Homo sapiens: one gene and its partners. The protein of the gene in region 1 purifies or fractionates together with the protein of each later gene. This does not show direct contact. Each region holds a gene or a part of one and is shown in the gene's direction. Other genes may lie near its edges.

Region 1 (7,024 bases):
AGTTGTTACTTAGCAGCCAACATCCTTAAGTTACTCTTGTGGCAAGTTTGCTTCCCCATCTCTGCTTAGCTTTCCAGCTTCATCTTCCACCCCGGCAGACCACACCCCAGCCTGCTAAACTCCCTGTCCTTCTCTGAATCTCTGAGCTCTCGGCTCTATTGCTTTGGGATTCATGCTGCTATACGTGCCAGGAAGTCCATTTCTCATACCTTCATCCCCCAATCCAGCTATTTCTTGCCCATCCTTGAACAGTGACATCAGCTATTCTGAGGATGTGCTACTCACGCAGGCTGGACTAGGTACCCTTTCTATCCTTTGGCAGGCTGTACTAACCTCTGTTAGATTTAAAATATTGTTTTTGTAATTGCTTTTACCTGTCCCCACCAAAAGACAGTTGCCCATATAATCATCAAAAACTATTTGTTAAATCAATCCAGAGAAGTAATTAGCACTTACTTCTCAGGGTTGTTCGGTCAATCTATAAACTGTAGGCTGTTATTTGGTCTACTGTTGATCCCAGCTTCTCTATCTTTGAACAGTGCCCATTAACTCAAGAATATACTGCTTCCTTGTTCTCTCCTTCTTGCCCCTCTCCATCATCCCCTAAAAGCCCCCTTCTCTGAGAGGGTAACCTTGAGCTTCTGGGTTTTGTAGATGTCTATACCTGAGATCCGACAATGTGGTAGAAGGCAACTGTGCTGATGAATTACTACAAAACTCCCATCGCGTCGTGGAGGAGTACTTTGTGGCCCCCCCAGGTACGTGCTGCCCAGAATGGTTTAACAGATAGTCTCACAGTAACCTTAGGAATGAAGCAGGAAGCATGAGGACCAAAGATGCTATGTGAAGGCACTTTGAAAAGGATGAAGTGCATACAGATGGTGGCATTAAGGTGGCAGTAGGGTCCAGGGTCATACTCACCTCTAGGGGGCAGTTAGTAACAGGAACAAGCAAAACAGGATTGGGGGCATGCGGGAGGTTTAAAGTAGGTGGAAATCTGGAGCTCAAGATCTCCCTAAAGGGGCAGCTGGCATTCAGTGTTTCTCAAAGCCACAGTTAAGACCCTGCCAGATCCTGTAATCGACTCCAACTTTCTAGTATTCATACCATGAATAAATATTTGTTAGGTCTAGCTTTGGGCTGGGTACCACAAAAAAACCAGTCCTTTCCTAAAAGAATCCTTTTTTTTTTTTTTTTTTTTTGAGACGGAGTTTCGCTCTTGTTGCCCAGGCTGGAGTGCAATGGTGCAATCTCGGCTCACCGCAACCTCCACCTCCCGGGTTCAAGCGATTCTCCTGCTCAGGCTCCCCAGTAGCTGGGATTACAGGCATGCACCAGCACGCCTGGCTAATTTTTTGTATTTTTAGTAGAGACAGGGTTTCACTGTGTTAGCCAGGATGGTCTCGATCTCCCGACCTCAGGTGATCCACCCACCTCGGCCTCCCAAAACGAATCTTATTGTGACAACTTAGTTATCATGTGTGGCCTTAGCCCAGATGTTTCTGTCACATCTTTGCCTATGACATGATTCAAACGCCATTAGGGTCTGCCCTCAGTCTGTGCCCATTCAAAGCAGGAGGAGCATGGCTGCTACCCTATCAGTGTTGCCAGGCAGGAATGTAAACCCATTTCTCCAGAGAACCTGGATACCTGACATTTTGTGTGATATTTCTTAAATTTTTTTTTTTTTTTTTGAGATGGAGTCTCGCTCGGTCACCCAGGCTGGAGTGCAATCTTGACTCACTGCAACCTCTGCCTCCCGGGTTCAAGCAATTCTCTGCCTCAGCCTGCCGAGTAGCTGGGATTACAGGTGCCTGCCACCATGCCTGGCTAATATTTTTGTATTTTTAGTAGAGGCAGGATTTCACCATCTTGGCCAGGCTAGTCTTGAACTGGTGATCTACCCGCCTCAGCCTCCCAAAGTGCTGGGATTACAGGGGTGAGCCACTGCACCCCGCCGATATTTCTTAAATTTTAAGTGCTAGCAACCAATTCAAAATTTAAAAAACAAAATACCATCCAAGCCAAATAAAACACATCTGCAAGCCAGGTGCAGTCTGTGAGCCATCAGTTTACAACAGCTGGTATAGAGATTTGCATCATCTACCTACTGTAAATATTTTAAATAGAAGCTTTAAAATTACTCTGGGCTGACAGTAAAATCCAGAACCTTGGATAGGTTGACTGTTTTTATCTCCTCTGCAGGTAGGTGAATACTTGGAGCTGTTGTACTACCCCTCTGGGCATCTGGGAGTGGGACTAGCCAAAAGCAATCAGGTAGCCTGCTAAGTGCCAACTTCCAGTTCAGGATATCCTGAGGGAGAATCATTCTGAGCAGACTCCACAGAAGACATTGGCCCTGGTCAGCTTAAGGTGCCAGTTAAAGGCAGGCTCTGGTTGATGCAAGGATGGGAAAGAAAGCTAGAAATTTTGTGAGCTAAACTTTTTGTTTGTTTTGAGACGGAGTCTTGCTCTGTTGCCCAAGCTGGAGTGCAGTGGCGCGATCTCGGCTCACTGCAAGCTCCACCTTCCACGTTCATGCCATTCTCCTGCCTTAGCCTCCCAAGTAGCTAGGACTACAGGCGCCCACCACAACGCCTGGCTAATTTTTTGTATTTTTAGTAGAGACGGGGTTTCACCGTGTTAGCCAGGATGGTCTCTCTCTCCTGACCTCGTGATCGTCCGCTTCGGCCTCCCAGAGTGCTGGGATTACAGGTGTGAGCCACCGCACCCGGCCGTGAGCTAAACTCTTAATCATGCCTCCAATCCACTAAACCACCTGTTAACTGTGGAGAGAAAGGAGACTCTCCATCTCAGAGCCTGATAGTTGTGGCTCCAGCAGAAATATCTTTTGATCAGACATGCTATCTCCCACACAGAACCTTACTTCAGACTTTGCTTTTTGGGACCACCTGAGTTCATGGTCAGTGTTTCCTTCTAGTCCTATCTGCATATTAGTGGCTAATCAACCTGTATACTCCTTACTGAAAAAGGTGAATTTGGCTACACTTAGAACTGATTCTTTCAGATACTCCCAGTTAGGAAAACAGGACAGTAGCTACATTACTTCCATATTTTCCATGAGAAAGTAGTGATCAGTTAGCTCAGTAGAGCCAGCTGGGCGGCAGGCTCAGCTATAACATTCTCTGTTGTGGCCGGGCGCGGTGGCTCATGCCTGTAATCCTAGCACTTTGGGAGGCCGAGGAGGGCGGATCACGAGGTCAGGAGATCGAGACCATCCTGGCTAACACGGTGAAACCCCGTCTCTATTAAAAATACAAAAAATTAGCCGGGAGAGGTGGCGGGCGCCTGTAGTCCCAGCTACTCTGGAGGCCGAGGCAGGAGAATGGCGTGAACCCCAGGGGGCGGAGCCTGCAGTGAGCTGAGATTGCGCCACTGCACTCCAGCCTGGGCAACAGCGAGACTCTGTCTCAAAACAAAAACAAACAAACAAACAAAAATTCTCTTTTGTTATTTTCAAACAGGTAATATCTCTTTGCCAAAGCTGGATGAACAAGAGCCATTCCCACACAGCTGAGTAGCTCATTCTGGAAAGGGGGTACTCTGTGAACATGTGGAAGCATAATGACAGTATTTTTTTACTGTGAATACTAATGTTCCTGCTTTTTTCAGTCCCCTGAAAAAATGGATGCTCAAGCATTTCTTAATAACAGATTCTTCTGAAGACAGAATTGGGAAAGATCTGGCCCCAACAAGGCAGTGAGTTCCTGATGCTAACTGAGGTGAAAGAAAAGCAAAAGTCAGCTTCCAAGGAATTCACTTAACAGGCCTGTTCAGTATGGAAGACATTATTTATCTGCCTTTAACTCCCCCCAAAGGACCATACCAACTGCATGAAAGTGAACTTTTCTATCTACGTAACTGGTAGACGGAGCATCTTGATCACTATGTGACAACCTTGGCTGTCATTTTTAGTTGCCATTTGCATTGATTTGAGCAGCCCTATCTTTACCGAACATACCTGAATTTGTTCCTGGGCTCCCACTTTCTTCCCAGAAGAGGGCTAACTTCCTACTAAGGTCTGAAGAGTGTTGAAAGTAGACTAGAGCTTGGGAACTCCTAACCTAGAACTATCTGCCATCCCACAAAGTGATTATATGCCAAAGGGATACTAGTCATACCTAGTGTTTCTCTTTCTGAAAAGAGAACTTATCCTAAAATTAGCCCTGGGCCTGGGACAAAGGAGCCCTCTCCGCCCCCAAAATGATTATTAAATTGAGATGAGTCCAGGATAAAACTCAGATACCAAGGATAAATGAAACTTATTTAGGGATAAAAGTGGGCTGGGCGCAGTGGCTCACTCCTGTAATCCCAGCACTTTGGGAGGCTGAGACGGGCGGATCACAAGGTCAGGAGATCAAGACCATCCTGGCTAATGCGGTGAAACCTCATCTCTACTAAAAATACAAAAAATTAGCTGGGTGTGATGACAGGTGCCTGTAGTCCCAGCTACTCGGGAGGCTGAGGCAGGAGAATGGCGTGAACCCGGGAGACGGAGCTTGCAGTAAGCCGAGATCGCACCACTGCACTCCAGCCTGGGCGACAGAGCAAGTCTCAAAAAAAAAAAAAAAGTGATAGAATCAGAGAGTTTTTCCTCTAACCAAACTGCCAAAGTTGGTTTTGGCTAAGAATTTCCCAATAATATTTATGCTGCTGCTCATTTTTTTAGTTTTCTGAGACAGGGGTCTCCCTCTGTCACCCAGGCTGGAGTGCAGTGGTGACAGATCACTGCAGCCTCCAACTCCTGGGCTCAAGTGATCCTCCCACCTCAGCCTCCTAAGTAACTGGGACTACATATGTGCATCACCACGTCCAGTTAATTTTTTTTTAAGTAGAGGTGGGGGTTTTGCTATGTTGCCTATCTGGTCGTGAACTCCTGGCCTCAAGGGATCCTCTGGCATGCCTTGGCCTCCCAAAGGGCTAGGATCACAGGCAAAAGCCACCGTGTGTTTATTTTTCCCATTCCCTTCCTTTATCTGCAATGCTTTTTTCTTTAAGGCAGCCTAATTTACAAGCTTGGCCTTGAATTAAAAGAGAACCCAGAACCCGCTCTTGGAGTTTACGTTCTCAAACCAACATCAGAGCAACTGTCTATCCCCATATAAATAAAGTTATCTACCCCTGCTCCTAACTGGGTACAAGTTATGACTACAACTCAGTGATTTTTTAAATTAGTGTGCCTATTTGGTGAAATCTGTGAACTTAATCAAGGACAACCACACATGTCAATTACTAAACATTTAAAATATATTTCTAAACAGAATGGGCCGACTCAGTCACAGTAACTGTTGATCTCCATAGTAGAGCAACCCACAAAGACAGAACTGATTTTTTTCCCATAATCAGGGGTGAAAAATATACAACTTGTTTCTGAACCAAAACCACAATTTCTGCAGTTTAAAATGTTTCACTGCTAATATGGCCCTGGTAGAAATTATGTAGTTTTTTTTCTTCTTTAAAAAAAAAAAATTAAAAAAATTTCCTAAGACACTAAATCCTCAATCTGGAATGTAGATTCTGAGCACAAAGCAGCTCAGTTAACCTAAAAAATAAAGAAAAAATTCCCATCACCTGTCTCAGTAGGGCCTGAAAGGAGAGAAGTAGTGTGGGGAACCCCTGCTTTGGTATGGAGAGTCACGGCCCCTTGACCCAGACCGAGACCGTGAGTAGCCATAGCTGGTGCTTCTCTCAGGATAAACTCGGATGTAGGAAGTTTCACCCTGAAATGCAAACAAAAACAAAAAGAGTAAAGGGGAAAAAAATCAGAGCCAGAAGAATAAGCAAACCAACATCTAACAATAATAGTTAAGTATTGAGCACTTACTGTGTACTCTGTGCCTGGCATGAGGCTATCTCATTAAACCTTCATAACATTATGAGGTAGGTACTCTTACTATCCCATTTCAAGAATGAAGAAAATTAAGACTTAAGTTATATCATTTGCCCAAGGTAACACAATAAATGCCAATTTGACATGTTGATACTCAATTAACTATGATAAACAATATATCTGAATTACTGCCATTGACCCCCCTCAAAGCTAAGAACTGGAAAGGATCTCAGGGGTCATATAGTTTAATCCCCTGCCACCTCATGTATGCATCTTTGGATGGGCATCTATGGAAGGAGCTAGCCTGTATTTAATACCTTCCAGATGTGAGGACCTGAGCTAGATGCTTTAGACGTTATCCTCTTGCTCTAGATTCCTGGCAAGTCTTGTGATGGTGCTATTATGTGACCATTTTGCCCATGAAGGAATCGAGGTCCCAAGAGTAGTTCAGGTAAGGAATTAATAAGCAGCAGAGGAGTCATGTCCAGGCTGGCTTGTCCCCAGGCCCTCTGCCTTCAGCCACCATTCTCAGAAGATCCAAAGATGCCAAGGGGAAAGAAGCCGGATGCTTTTTCACCTTAGGTGAAAGTCAGTAATTGGAGTTACCCTTTCTGAGGCCCTGCTTTGCAGTATAACTGAGGATCAGGTGCTGTTCTGTTTCTGCTTCAAATTCAAGTCCTAGAGGACAGTCTGAACAAAAGCATCATTAAACCAGGGAAGGACCAACCTCTAAGCCAAAAACTAGGCAATTATATGAATCCTCAGAAAAAGAAATGAGCCCAGAGACCTGTGTCCCCAAACATCCGTAAATCTCATAGTAAGGCAGGACAGGATAACCAGAAAAAAACAATGTCCAACTGGTCTGGTTTCTGGTCTCAATGGTACCAAAGGGATAGTCACCACCTCAATCAAACTGAGATCCAAAACAGCAGCTGCTTTCCTACAAGGAAAGACATCAAGAACTACTGAGTCTGAAGGGTGACATAATCAACCACAAGAAAATGTTACGGTTTAGCCTGGCACAGTGGTGCATGCCTGCAGTCCCAACTACTGGAGAGGCTGAGGTGGGAGGACTGCTTGGGCCCAGGAGTTCAAGGTCAGCCTCGGCAATATAATGAGACTGTCTCTAAAATCAAAAATTAGAGAAATATAAAAATTATAAAATTAAAAAAG
Region 2 (7,024 bases), on another chromosome or scaffold:
TTTGGTTCTTGCTCTTTGCCTGTCTTCTCTTTTACTTCTAGTTAGTTGTTTCTTAGTTGATCAAAGGCTCAATCTTTGTTGCTCTTTTAGGTTGTTTTCTGTGTTAGGAATCATGAGCCTGAATGCAGAGGCTGAGAAGGAAGCATTGAAAGATGCTGGCTAGATGGCAGCATGGGGGACTGGTGAACTGGAGAGAGTGCTCTAGAGAGGAGGCAGCTTCTCAGCCCCAGCCATTGTTGCCCTTATAGAATATAGACCCAGGGTTTCCATTATTACTGATTTTTCTGGAAAACCTGGAAAAAGTGCAGTTTTAGGTGAAATGTCTTGATTTTTAAATGTTAGTAGTTTTTTTCTGTTTTTCTTCTTTTTAATCTCTACCATTCCATCCAGATAATGTTAGTAGTTTTAAAACTGCTCGGCTGGGCATGGTGACTCAAGTCTGTAATGCCAGCACTTTGGGTGGCTGAGGCTGGAGGATCACAGCCCATGAATTTGAGACCAGCCTGGGCAACATAGACTGTCTCTCTACAAAAAATTTAAAAATCAGCCAGGTGTGGTGGTGTGCGCCTGTAGTCTTAGCTGTTCAGGAGGCTTGAGTCCAGGAGATTGAGGCTGCATTTGAGCCCATGTATCATACCACTGCACTCCAGCCTGGGTGACAGAGTGAGACCCTGTCTCTAAAAATAAATAAATAAATAGAATACAAAAATAAAATGCTGCTGACCAATACCACAGTTACAGTTGGCATCTTTCTGGCAATTAGTTTTCAACTGCAGCCTTCTCATTTATTCCTTACAGAAAGCTGAGAGATTCCAGTGTCTCAGTGATTGTACATGCATGTGGCATAAGATATACCTTTAGTTCTAACTTTTCTTTCAACCTCTAGTCTCTTTCTTCTGTTGACTATTTCTGCTTATGTCAGTACAAATTCAAATTCAAAAAATTGAATTTGTATTTCGTCCTGCAAACCAGCTAGCTTCTTTCCCTGTCTTTTCTATATTCTCCTGGTTGTCCTGGCTTGAAATCTTAAAGTCATTTTTGACATTCCTTTCCATTGAGTTTTTACTTTATAAAAACTCTTAATAATATCACTCCCTTCTGTTTCCACATCTGCTGTTCTTCATCACCCCATGCCTAAATTATTGGCCTCCTGGACTTGATTTTCTGCTCTGTTCACACCTTGCCTACTTCTGGGATAATAATTTTCACTAAGCACTACTTTGTGATGTCTTCTTCCTGCTTAAGCAGTTTCATGTAGTTGTTTAATTTCGTGAGGCCATGTTTGTTTTATTGGATAATTGCAAAAAGTTCCTGAGTGATAAAGTTCTCATCTAAGACAGTTGTTTATTTAAACTTCACGCATCATAACCACCTGGAGGGTTTGTTAAACACAGATTTCTGGGCCCCACAGTTTCTTGTTCAGTAGGTCTGGGGTGGGGCAGAGAATTTCAGTTTCTAGTCAGTTTCCAGGGGATGTTGATGGTACTTGTCCAAGAACCATACTTTGAGAATAACTGTTCTAAAAAGCCAAGTTGACATCAGTTGAAGGAAATAAGCCTGATAAAGTTAATTAAGAAATTAGAAGTAGCAGGCCGGGCACAGTGGCTCATGCCTGTAATTTCAGCACTTTGGGAGGCTGAGGCGGGCGGATCAAGAAAGAAGTCAGGAGATCATGACCATGCTGGCTAACATGGTGAAACCCCGTTTCTACTAAAAATACAAAAAATTAGCCGGGCATGGTGGCAGGCACCTGTAGTCCCAGCTACTCAGGAGACTGAGGCAGGAGAATGGCGTGAACCCGGAAGGCAGAGCCTGCAGTGAGCCGAGATTGCACCACTGCACTCCAGCCTGGGCGACAGAGAGAGACTCAGGCTCAAAAAAAAAAAGGAGCGGAGAGGTGCATGCCCTCTTCCTCTCCACCAGATGGCAGTTTTGGAACCAATAGAAAAGAAAGATCATAAATTCAGAATTACCTGGGGACACTGAATTCTCAATTACATTTTGAGGTATAAAAGCTAATATCAAATTTTAAGTGACAGCTGAATTTGAATTAGAACGAATGGGCTGGGTGCGGTGGCTCACACCTGTCATCCCAGCACTTTGGGAGGCCCAGGTGGGCGGATCACCTGAGGTTGGGAGTTCAAGACTAGCCTGGCCAACATGGAGAAACCTCGTCTCTACTAAAAATACAAAAATAAGCCGGGTGTGGTGACGCATGCCTGCAATCCCAGCTACTCGGGAGGCTGAGGCAGGAGAATTGCTGGAACCTGGGAGGCAGAGGTTGCAGTGAGCTGAGATCGTGCCACTGCGCTGCAGCCTGGGTGACACAGCAAGACTCTGTCTCAAAACCAACCAACCAACCAAATGGAAGCAATGTGATTATATAGTATTTGACAAGGAATTTGGTTGTGTGTGTATATATATATACACATATATACGTATATATATACATATATATACACATATATACGTATATATATACGTATATATACACATATATATGTATATATACATATATACATATATATACACATATATATGTATATATACATATATATATATTTTTTTTGTAGTAACTGGTCCACAGATTTTTGTGACCTATAAATATTGTGTACAGTGGCTTTGTTTGATAGGTTTACATTAACTTTCTTTGAGTTAAATAAAATTCTGTCTTATATATAAAACTGGGACTTGGAGTTAGTCCTGAGTTCTCTTTGTTTACTTGTTAAAACACTGCAGTTAGTACTTACACTGTTACATAATAGTTGCAAATCTGGCAACACCCTCTTGAACCTTGAACCTACATTTGGGTACTGGCCTCATTAAGGAATCCAAAGTCATTCTGGATTTTTATGCTTAAAATCTCCAGAAAGATAAAATTGAGTCAAGTTGAAAACATTTTAGACGTGGTGTTTTAGGGTAGTGTAGTTCACACTTTAAAAGTAATTATGAAAACCTTATTTAGAAAGTATCCCTAAATAAGATATGATCTGTCACTTCAGTTTCATAATTATAAAGTGTTAGTGTTGATTTTTAATGACAGCTTCGTTCTTTGAAATCATTTAGGGGAGCTTCAAACAAAGTATCTGTGCCTGTGCCCCACCTCCAGAGTTTGATTTAATTGGTCTTGGGTGTGACCTGGGCTTTGGAATTTTTAGCAGTCTCCAGGTGATTCCTTTTTTTTTTTTTTTTTTTTTGTGAGACAGAGTCTCTTGTCACCCAGGCTGGAGTGCAGTGGCACAATCTCGGCTCACTGCAACCTCTGTGTTAGAAATACCAAAATTGTTAGATAAGTGGTGTTGTGAAGAAAAGTCAGCACGGAGGCAAAAGATTTATCAGCAAGGCCATTTTTACTTTCTGCAGAAAGGGTCCCCAATTGCAGATGGAACAATGGCGAGAGCACACTTGACAAAGGAAAAGCAGACATATTTATCCCTTACGCATTTGGGTTGTCCTTAATGCTGTGTCCTGCATCCATTGGCTGGAGTGGGACCTCACACTCTTAAACTGATACCCAATATGCTAATAGCCTAAATAGGTAAGTGTAGGGAAGAACAAAGAAGTTGCTTATGAAAGGTTTAAGGAAGCAATAACATTTTTAAATAAGGGGAATAGGCTGTGAGCTCGAACATGCCCGTGAGCATGTCCAATAGTTACGTAGGATAGGGCTTAACAAAGAGTTACTAGCACAAAGCAAGGAGGCATGAAGAAAGTTAGTCTTTAAAAGAAATTATTATTTCTAACAGTTATGATTTATTCTTTAACAGGAAGAAAAACTTTGAAGAGGAAACTTTTTACTTTCTACACTCTGCCTCCCAGGTTTAAGCTATTCTCCTGCCTCAGCCTCCTGAGTAGCTGGGATTACAGGCGCCCACCACCATGCCTGGCTAATTTTTGTACTTTTAGTGGAAACGGGGTTTCGCCTTGTTGGCCAGGCTGGTCTGAAACTCCTGACCTCAGGTGATCCGCCTGCCTTGGCCTCCCAAAGTGCTGGGATTACAGGCATGAGTCACCATGCCCAGCCGAGTCTCCAGGTGATTCTAATGTACAGACCAGTCTTGGAATTACTGGGCTACATTTTACTTGTGAGACAAATTCAGAAAATGCTAGTTCAGGAATGTGAATTATAACTGACTTAAACAAATAGGTTGTTTCTCTCTTTTGTATAGTATTATTCAATTTGAATGTAATATAAAAAAGTCATATAAATTCTGAAAGGCAAGTTGGATTACAAATATTTTTATAAATTCAGTCATCCAAGTTGTTACAAGTGGTAACTGGTGATATTGCCTTTTGTGAAACCTCAGGCTGTTGGTCTTCATATAATCTCAGAGTATTCTTGAAAAATTAACAGATTGTCAGTTTATCAGTTCCATTAGTTGGTATATGTATCTGCACATGTGCACAGCCCTTATCAGGCTGCTGCAGCTACTGATTCTAGCTTTGACCTCTTTCCATAGATCTTAAATTTAGCTTCTTAAACAAAAAGCATGCATCTTAGTATATTCTAACTATAGTGTTTTTATTTGCACATCTGTCATTACGTTGTGGGTTTCTCGAGTGCAAGAGCTATGTCTTTTAGGACATTTTTTAAAAAGCCCAAAGCATAATGATACAACTTGATGAATTTTCACAAATGAAACATACCTAAATCACCAGCACCTGGATCGAGAAACAAGCATTCCAGAGGCCCTCCTCATGCCTCTCTCAATCACTGCCGTTCCCGGTGTTGTCTTTTACTTTCTTATTATAATTTACATAAGGCACTTGAGTACACCGTTCTGAAGTTTATAGCTTAGTGAACTTATACCTGCAGTCCTGTAATCAGCATTGGGATAGAGACAATTTCCAACATTCCGTGTTTGTTCATGCCCCTTCCCAGGTGCCCCCACCCTCACCATTCTCATGTCCATTATTAGTGGTCACTTTGGTCAAGCTGTGTCTCAGGCTTTGTATTCCTAGCCCAACAAGCACTTTTAAGACAGCAAAAAATAGAAGTGTGTTGTGTTTATTGTTTTGTAGCCTGCTCTCCTTTTGTGATTTGTCACTACTTTTCCATGTTAGTATTTTTAGTGGTTGTGTAATGGCTGTATTAATAGACACAGTCTTTAAAATAATGCTCTACTCTTAGACATTTACTTTGTTTTCAGTTTTTCCATCCTGTAAATAATGTGAACATATTTATCAATCAGACTTTGGTCATATTTCTGAGATTTCCCTAGTGCAAATGCTTGCGGAATTAGTGGATTGAAGGGTGTGATCATTTTAAAGGCTGTGGATTTGTATTTCCAGACTGTTTACCGGAAAGGCAGTACCAATTTATACCTCTCTCTAGTGTCTGAGAATGCTGTTTGTATTGCATCTTTAACAAACCTTTTTTCTTAAGATTAATGACTTTATTTTTTAGAGTAGTTATAAGTTGATGGAAAAAATGACCTGCAAATTTGAGCAGAAAAGTTTGACAAATAATAAGGACATGTATCAACCATTACAGTATCATACAGATTAGTTTCACTGCCCTAAACATCTCCTGTGTTTCAACTGTTCATCCCTCCTTCCGTCCCCCAAACCCCTGGCAACCATTGATCTTTCTACTGATTTCATAATTTTGCCCTTTTCAGAATATCATACAGTTGAAATGAGAGTATGTAGCCTTTTCAGACTGGCTTCTTTTGCTTAGTAGTATGTATGCATTTAAGTTTCGTCCAATTTTTTTTGTGGCATAATAGCTCTTTTCTTTTTTTCATGGCTGAATAATATTTTATATGGTTGTATTGAAATTGGTTTGTCTTCCAACCATTGAAGAACATCTTGGTTACGTCCACATTTTGGCAGTTATGAATAAAGTTACCATAAAATTCATGTGCAAAGTGGCTGTACCATTTAATGTTCCTACCAGCAGTGAATGAGAGCTAAACCTTTTAAAACTTTTTGTTCTGGTAATACCTTTTAGAAGAGGCTGAAACAAAAGGTGATATACTATTTGTCAACTGAGACATGACTACCCACATTACTGTTCTCATTGTTTTCCACATTTGTTTCAGGTTTAATGCATTCAAAAGGACTAATACCATACTGCACCATTTGGTAAGTTATTGTGTTTGTTTTGCTGGCATTATTTGTATGTGTAACTTAAAATGTCATTGTTAGAGAAGTAGAGAAATACTGGTATGGCAGATTTCCTTGACCTTAGGTACATCATGGTTCTCAACTGAGTGTCAAGACATGGCACACGCACCTTGTAGGAGGTGGCATAAGATTATGGTTAAAACCATGGTTCTTACAAGTCAGAATGCCTGAGTTTAAATAATGGGTTCACTACTTAATCTTGGGTGGATTACTTGGTCTCTTACAGCTTCCCTTTTGATATGTATAAAGTGAGAATAATAATAATATCTACCTTAGAGTGCTTATAAATGATAAATAAGATAATTGTATTAATCAGTGTTCTCTAGAAGGACAGAACTTATAGGACATATGTATATATGAAAGGGAGTTTATTAAGGAGAATTGACTCACATGATCACAAGATAAAGTCCCATGATAGGCCGTCCGCAAATTGAGGAGCAAGGAAGCCAGTGATGGATCAGTCTGAGTCCCAAAACCTCACAAGTTAGGAAGCTGACAGTGCAGCCTCCAGTCTGTGGCCAAAGGCCCAAGAGCCTCTGGCAAACCACTGGTATAAGTCCAAGAGTTCAAAAGCTGAAGAACTTGGAAGCTGATGTTTGAAGGCAGGAAGCATCCAGTGCCGGAGAAAGATGAAGGCTGGAAGACTCAGCAAGTCAAGTCCTTCCAACTTCTGCCTGCTTTTATTCTAGCCACTCTGGAAGCTGATTAGATGGTGCCCACTCAGACTGAGGGTGGGTCTGCCTCTCCCAGTCCACCGACTTGAATGTTAATCTCCTTTGGCAATACCTGCACAGACATACCCAGGAAAAATACTTTTCATCCTTCAATCCAATCACGTTGACAGTCAATATTAACCATCACAATAATGCATTAAAAAATCTAGCATAGTCTTTGG
Region 3 (7,495 bases), on another chromosome or scaffold:
AAAAAAAAAGAAAGAAAGAAATCAGTAATTCCAGCACTTTGGGAGGCCAAGGTGGGTGGATCACTTGAGGTTAGGAGTTCAAGACCAACCTGGCCAACATGGAGAAACCCCATCTCTGCTAAAAATACAAAAATTAGCCAGGCATGGTGGCGTGTGCCTGTAATCCCAGCTCAGGAGGCTGAAGAAGGAGAATCGCTTGAGCCTGGGAGGCAGAGGTTGCAATGAGCTGAGTAGACAGTTTTCAAGATCTCTCAAAAGGAGGGAACCTGGGGTATACTACGGGATTTCAGTTGAAAGACTTGGAGAGCTAGGCCCTGGGAACAGAGGCAAGTGAAGTAGACAGAACCCTATCAACACTGCATCCCATAGACCTTGAGCTAATAAACACAGAAGGAATTACAGAATTAGAAAGTTACCATTTGATAACCACCATAGTAAAATCGTCTCAAGCAAGTCGAGTCAGTGGATAATAAAACTAGTGAGGCTGGGTGTGGTGGCTTATGCCTCTAATCCCAGCACTTTGGGAGGCCAAGGCAGGCGGATCACTTGAGGTCAGGAGTTCAAGACCAGCCTGGCCAACATGGTGAAACCCCATCTCTACTAAAAATACAAAAAAATTAGCCGGGCATAGTGGTGGGCGCCTGTAGCCCCAGCTACTCGGGAGGCTGAGGCAGGAGAATGGCGTGAACCCAGGAGACGGAGCTTGCAGCGAGCCGAGATGGTGCCACTGCACTCCAGCCTGGGTGACTGAGCGAGACTCCGTCTCAAAAAAAAAAAAAAGAGAGAGAAGTTCCAGGCCGGGTGTAGTGGCTCACGCCTGTAATCCCAACACTCTGGGAGGCCGAGGCGAGCGGATCACAAGGTCAGGAGATCGAGACCATCCTGGCCAACATAGTGAAACCCCATCTCTATTAAAAATACAAAATTTAGCTGGGTGTGGTGGCACACGCCTGTAATCCCAGCTGCTCAGGAGGCAGAGGCAGGAGAATCCCTTGAACCAGGGAGTTGGAGGTTGCAGTGAGCCGAGATCGCACCACAGCAGTCTAGCCTGGCGACACAGTAAGACTCCGTCTCAAAAAAAAAAAAAAAAAAGAAGTTCCTGGCTGGGCGCAGTGGATCAAGAGATCGAGACCATCCTGGCCAACATGGTGAAACCCCGTCTCTACTAAAAATACAAAAATTAGCTGGGCATGGTGGCATGTGCCTGTAGTCCCAGCTGCTCAGGAGGCTGATGCAGGAGAATGGCGTGAACCCGGGAGGCAGAGCTTGCAGTGAGCTGAGATCGCGCCACTGTACTCCAGCCTGGGTGACAAAGCAAGACTCCGTCTCACAAAAAAAAAAAAAAAAAAAAAAAAAAAAAGAGTACTGATTGCTACTCGCAACATTCTTCTCTTCCCATGGTGTGAATGAGAACATCCCTGCTTTCCACACAAACACAGGCTCTCAAGCACACGAGAAGCATGCCAGGTGTCAGGTCCTTTCTGTGAAGTCGGTTGTAGGCAGATGTCCAGTCTACTGATGGGGACAAGAACTTCAGAGGGAGGAGGGAGGCCTTCCCCACAGCCATGCCGGTGCTGCAGGGAGGTAAGATAAACGCCTGCATCTTAGCGACCTCAGATCCAAATTCATTCTTACACTGTGGTAACATAGGTATGTCAAATGTTTGTCTGTACACTGTTTATCCTGTGTGGTAGCAAATACATTTACCAAGTCACTGCAGATGAAGATTTCACAAGAGGACTTGACAAGCGTAATTAAAACGTCTGTTTAGGGCAAGACATGGTGGCTCATGCCTCTAATCCCAGCACATTGGGAGGCCAAGGCAGGTGGATCTCTTGAGGTCAGGAGTTTAATGCCAGCCTCAGCAACATAGTGAAACCCCACCTCTACCAAAAAATACAAAAGTTAGCTGGGGACGGTGGCACGCGCCTGAGGTCTCAGCTATTCGGGAGGCTGAGGTGGGAGAATCGCTAGAGCCCAGGAAGTTAAGACTGCAGTGAGCCGTGATTGCACCACTGTGCTCCAGCCTGGGTGACAGGGTGAGAGCTAATCTCAAAAAATAAAAATAGGCTGGACGCGGTGGCTCACGCCTGTAATTCCAGCACTTTGGGAGGCCTAGGTGGGCAGATCACGAGGTCAGGAGTTTGAGACCAGCCTGGCCAACATAGCGAAACCCTGTCTCTAATAAAAATACAAAAATTAGCCCAGCGTGGTGGCGCACGCCTGTACAGTCCCAGCTACTGGGGAGGCTGAGGTAGGAGAATCCCCTGAACCTGGGAGGCAGAGGTTGCAGTGAACCGAGACCACACCATTGCACTCCAGCCTGGGCAACAGAGTGAGCCTCCATCTAAAAAATAATAATAAAATAAAAACACTCAATCCCCTAGAAAAAATAGTGCATCAGTGGTTATGAGAACCTACTAAGGACAAGACCCATCTTTGACAATGAAAGGGGCCTTAGGACTTACTTCCCTTTTTTTTTTTTTTTTGAGACAGTCTCGCTCTGTCGCCTAGGCTAGAGTGCAGTGACACAATCTTGGCTCACTGCAACCTCCGCCTCCTGGGTTTAAGCAATTCTCCTGTCCCAGCCTCCCAAAGTAGCTGGGATTACAGGCATGTGCCACCACGCCCAGCTAATTTTTGTATTTTTTAGTAGAGATGGGGTTTCACCATATTGATCAGGCTGGTCTCGAACTTCTGACCTCACGTGATCCAACTGCCTTGGCCTCCCAAAGTGCTGGCATTACAGGCATGAGCCACCGCACCCAGCCTGACTTAGCATTTTGGAGTGGAGGCCGATCATGGTGATGGAGAAGGAAATCAGGGACAGATCTACACCATTTGTTTGCTATTTACTGCACGTAAACAGAATGAAATCAACACATTAAGTATTTCACTTGATTTCATCCACCATCTCCTGCAGACAACCAGGTTTCTCCCAAATTCATGTGCCTGGAAATGGCTTGAACCAAATGGTTCATGAGGAAAACCTGTGATATTTTTCATGAAATCGCCACATCTGGGCATCAGGAAAGCCTTCCCCGAGAATGTCTCAAATTGGTCAGCCGTTTTCTCTTTTTTTAGACAGGTAGGTGTCCCCAAGCATTCAATCCTAGCTAAAATATGGAAGTATTTATCTAGCACAGGAGCCTATGGCATAGTTTCAGTCCACTGTCTGGCAGACCTCATCTGGGCTGTCTTTGTGTGATTTGACTGGCCAGTAAATGGGGTATAAACTATGTAGGCTGTGGCCTGGCCTTGTGACAGAGGGGTCCCTGGAACTTGACTGCCACTCCCTAAGAGCAGAAACCGCCTCTTTCTTGTACATTGCTGGATCCCATCATCCTGCACAGTGCCTGGCTACAGGTGGCCAGCAATAAAACACAAGATTGGGGCAGGCACAGTGGCTCACGCCTGTAATCCCAGGACTTTGGGAGGCTGAGATGGAAGGATCACTTGAGGCCAGGAGTTCAGGCCCAGCCTAGGCAACATAGTGAGCCTATCTCTACAAAAAAAAAATTTTTTTTAAATTAATAAAACACAAGATTGGTTTGTGTGGTGAGACAGTATTGAATCCAACAAACGGGAACTGGATAGTGTGGCCCAAGATGCAATGGTGGCTGCAGCATGAGACCCTTATGCATATAATATTCAGTGGAAGAGGTGCCAGGCACTGTTCTGGGTGCTGAGAATAAAGCTATGCATAAGACTAAGGTTCTGTCGACAGAGATCGTGTCACACCAGTGGAAAAGACAGTCATCAAACTTATATCCTTGAGTCAGTGATGAGTTCTAGAAGGAAAGAAAAGGCTGATGTGACAGTGAGGAAGGGATGAGTGGAGACTTCTCTGAGACTTCAGTGATTCCTCTTCCTCTGAGCTGAGCCAAGCTGAGAAGCTGAGAAGAGTAAGATAGGGCCGGGAACTCAGGTCCGTTAGTCCGTCCTCCGAGGTGGGGCGGGCCAGCAGAATGGATTTCCGATCTACTCTGTGAGAGCCTCGCCCAAGAAAGCCCAGAGCCACTTCCAAGATCCGCGCTCCCACGGCGATGAGAAGCGTTTTCCCCCGGGACTGCTTGGCTTAGGACTGGGGACCCACTGGCTTTGGAGTAAGCCCTGGCACGGGCCTCGAGGGAAGAAAGAACTCCCGCGCTCCCCACACTCCACAGGGCCTGCGATCATCTCAGATGTTCCGGTTCCACGTGCAGAAACCCCGCCGGTCCGAGGCCCCGGTTCTAAAACGGCCCTAAGAGTCAAGGCTTCCACAGCTCGCCTCTGAGGGTGGCAAAGAGGCCGCGGGGGCGGTGCCTCGCGAGACCCAAACAAGCCCACGTGGCAGGGGCGGGGCTCCGCGAAGGCGTCACGGCGCGCTCGTGCGCTGCTGAGGTCACGCGCCGGCAGTACCCTTGCCCGGGGGCCGTAAAGCGCGGAAGGTCGCGGTCTCGGCTTCCCCGGAACTTTTTGCTCGCTTCGCCCCGCCCCCTTCCCATCCCCGAACCCCGCTTTCCGGCCCGCGGCGACCCCAGGCAACTGTTGTGGCTGCCGCATTGCTCCCGCCGGGCTGTAGCTGAGCGCGGAGCCCGTGGGGACCGGTGAGGTAAGGAGATAGCTTCGGGGCAACTCTGGCCTCCCCGTCCGCGCGGGCCTAAGCGCCCCGGGACCCCTGGGTTCCCCTCTTTCTCCTTTGGTTTCGCCCGGGGGTGGTCCCCGCTAGCTCACGCTTCCAGTGGGTTCCGCCTGGCCTCTCGCGAAGTCGCGTCCGGGCGCCAGTACTCGTCCCCGTAAGGTTGTCCGCTCGTGCCTTGGCTTGTGTTCTCGGCTACCCCTGGGCGTGCGCACCGCTCCTCCAGGAGCCTGCACTTCAGCCCCGATGCCAGGGCGGCCGGGGTGACCTCGGGCTCCCCCGTCTCGGGCTTGCACACCCCTGCGGCGCAGAGCCAACTCCAGCTTGTCTAGCCCGGTCCTCCATCCCTGCAGATGGAACTGTTTTCCCGCGTTGAGACGTGCGGTCCGCTTGTGCTTTTAGAACTAAAGACTGCTGCAGAGTCCGGAGGAAGAAGTCACCTAGAAAAATCTGGGACAGGGCAGTAAGCTTCCTTCTTAATGTTTGACCTTTGGGGGCCGATGTGTGATACCTCGGATTTGAATCAAGAATCTCCAAGCCCATTTTCCGCATGCATGTAAACGTGATGTACCGGGATGGGGTCTGGTGGTGGAGGAGGAGCCAGCCTGACGGATAAGCTTTTCCAGTGGCAGGGACTTGTGTTAATTTCTTTTTTCTTTTTTTTTCTTTTTTCCGAGACAGAGTTTCACTCTGTCGCCCAGGCGGGAGTGCAGTGGCGCGATCTCGGCTCACTGCAACCTCTGCCTCCTGGGTTCAAGCAATTCTCCTGCCTCAGCCTCCCAAGTAGCTGGGAATACAGGTGTGCGCCACCACGCCCGGCTAATTTTTGTGTTTTTAGTAGAGACGGGGTTTCACTATGTTGGCCAGGCTGGTCTCGAACTCCTGACCTCGTGATTCTCCCGCCTCAGCCTCCCAAAGTGCTGGGATTACAGGCGTGAGCCACTGCGCTCGGCCAACTTGTGTTAATTTCTTAAACTTGCGTGATCACCTGGTGTACTTGTTGAAAAATACAGCTCCCTGGAGTGGCAGGATCAGAATCTGCCGAGGTGGACCGTGGGAATCTGTCATTTTTAAACAAGTGTCCCAGGTGGTTCTTTTGCTGAGGCAAGTGTGGGAAATGTTGTGTGAACCCACGCTCATCCAGTCTTCCTTGTGACCGGCAGTCCACTGTGCGCAACGCTGCAGCCATACAGAGGGACAACTCGAAGTTAGAACTAGCACCTTGGTCTTGTTGGAATAAGCAGATCTGAGTAGAGCCAGCTGCAGTCTTATGGTTGTTTAGCAGAAGTTATTCTTCTTAGCAGAGAATATTATACGGTCATTTTCCAGAACTGTAAAAACTCTATCATTTGTTTTAAACCAGATGATGTGCTTCATTTCTGTCTTTGACGTCTTCAGTTTCTTCTCCCCTGGCTTTACCTCCTTTGTTATCAGTTTGTGCTTTGGTTTTGCTGCCAACCTTATAGGTTTAGGTTTGGCGGCAAAGGCACTAGACTCTGGTGCCTTCTTTTCCTTCGTTGTCTTAAGCCCTTCTTTTCCTCTGCCCTCATGCCCTCACCACTTCACTCTTTTGAAGGTCATAATGAACACAAGGTCAGAGATCCCTTTTTTGGCGCCAAGCACCCTGGGCTTTTTTGAGATGGAGTCTCACTGTGTCACCCAGGCAGTGGCGCGAATCTGCCCACTGCAGCCTCCATCTCCCTGGTTGAAGCAATTTTCCTGTCTCAGCCTCCTGAGTAGCTGGGACTACAGGTGCAAGCCACGACACCTGGCTAATTTTTCTGTTTTTAGTAGAGACGGGGTTTCACCATGCTGATCAGGCTGGTCTCAAACTCCTGACCTCAAATAATCCACCCACCTTGGCCTCCCAAAGTGCTAGGATTACAGGTGTGAGCCCCTGCGCCTGGCCTTTCTTTGTTTTGTTTTGTTTAAGACAGAGTCTCACTGTGTCACCCAGGCAGGAGTGCAGTAGCATAATCTCGGCTCACTGCAACCTCTGTCTCCCAGGCTCAAGCGATCCTCCTACCTCAGGAGTTCAGGACCAGCCTGGGCAACATAGTGAGCCCCTCTCTACAAAAAAAAAAAAAAAATTAAAAAAATTAATAAAACACAAGATTGGCCTGTGTGGTGAGAGAGTATTGAATCCAACAAACGGGAACTGGTTAGTGAGGCCCAAGATGCAATGGTGGCCGCACCATGAGTACCTGGGACCACAGGTGCGTGCCACCACACCCAGCTAATTTTTTGTATCTTTGGTAGAGACGGGGTTTCACCATGTTTGCCAGGCTGGTCTCCAACTTCCGACCTCAAATGATCTACCCGCCTCGGCCTCCCAAAGTGCTGAGATAACAGGCGTGAGACATGGCGCCCGGCCTAAAGTTTTTTTTTTAATTCCACCTTAAAACTCATCTGTTACTGTGTTTGTTCTGCCACCTTTGCAATTCCCTTTCTCTGTTAGGGGAATGTGCTTAATGGTTCAGTCCTCACAGCTGTCCTTTCCTTACCATCTGCTTTTATTTGAAAGGTAGCGTGGAGTCATGATTAAATAGCCGGCCACTAATGCCAAATTGGCAGGGTTCTGCTACTCAACAGTTTGGTAGGACCTTGGGTGAGTCACTTCCACTTATCTGTGCCTGTTTCCTCAAGTGTAGAATAGAAATGCTAGTATCTACCTCATAAGGTTGTGAGGATTAAATTAGTTATATATATAGGCAGTATCTGGTGCATTGTAACTACTTATAAAAATATTAGCTTTAAAAATTATTTGCCGGTCACAGTGGCTCATGCCTGTAATCCCAGCACTTTGGGAGGCCAAGGCAGGCGGATCACGAGGTCGGGAGATTGAGACCATCCTGGCTAACATGGTGAAACCCC

What was found.
Region 2: the proteins of GATC (region 1) and HIBCH purify together in Homo sapiens (affinity purification with mass spectrometry; 2 studies listed by BioGRID and IntAct, with this or other methods). This does not show direct contact.
Region 3: the proteins of GATC (region 1) and PDPR purify together in Homo sapiens (affinity purification with mass spectrometry; 2 studies listed by BioGRID and IntAct, with this or other methods). This does not show direct contact.

The regions. Positions count from the first base shown.
Region 1 is NC_000012.12:120,456,422-120,463,445, forward strand, and holds part of GATC (glutamyl-tRNA(Gln) amidotransferase subunit C, mitochondrial), read left to right. Parts: intron 1-654; coding exon 655-758; intron 759-3,485; coding exon 3,486-3,538; 3' UTR 3,539-5,597; coding exon of another isoform or gene 5,598-5,741; 3' UTR 5,742-7,024. Other genes in the region: SRSF9 (serine/arginine-rich splicing factor 9), read right to left, coding at 5,598-5,741. UniProt on the Homo sapiens protein: Allows the formation of correctly charged Gln-tRNA(Gln) through the transamidation of misacylated Glu-tRNA(Gln) in the mitochondria. The reaction takes place in the presence of glutamine and ATP through an activated gamma-phospho-Glu-tRNA(Gln).
Region 2 is NC_000002.12:190,309,817-190,316,840, reverse strand, and holds part of HIBCH (3-hydroxyisobutyryl-CoA hydrolase, mitochondrial isoform 1 precursor), read left to right. Parts: intron 1-6,044; coding exon 6,045-6,087; intron 6,088-7,024. UniProt on the Homo sapiens protein: Hydrolyzes 3-hydroxyisobutyryl-CoA (HIBYL-CoA), a saline catabolite. Has high activity toward isobutyryl-CoA. Could be an isobutyryl-CoA dehydrogenase that functions in valine catabolism. Also hydrolyzes 3-hydroxypropanoyl-CoA.
Region 3 is NC_000016.10:70,109,847-70,117,341, forward strand, and holds the start of PDPR (pyruvate dehydrogenase phosphatase regulatory subunit, mitochondrial isoform 1 precursor), read left to right. Parts: upstream 1-4,485; 5' UTR 4,486-4,594; intron 4,595-4,974; 5' UTR 4,975-5,084; exon of another isoform or gene 5,085-7,229; intron 7,230-7,495. UniProt on the Homo sapiens protein: Decreases the sensitivity of PDP1 to magnesium ions, and this inhibition is reversed by the polyamine spermine.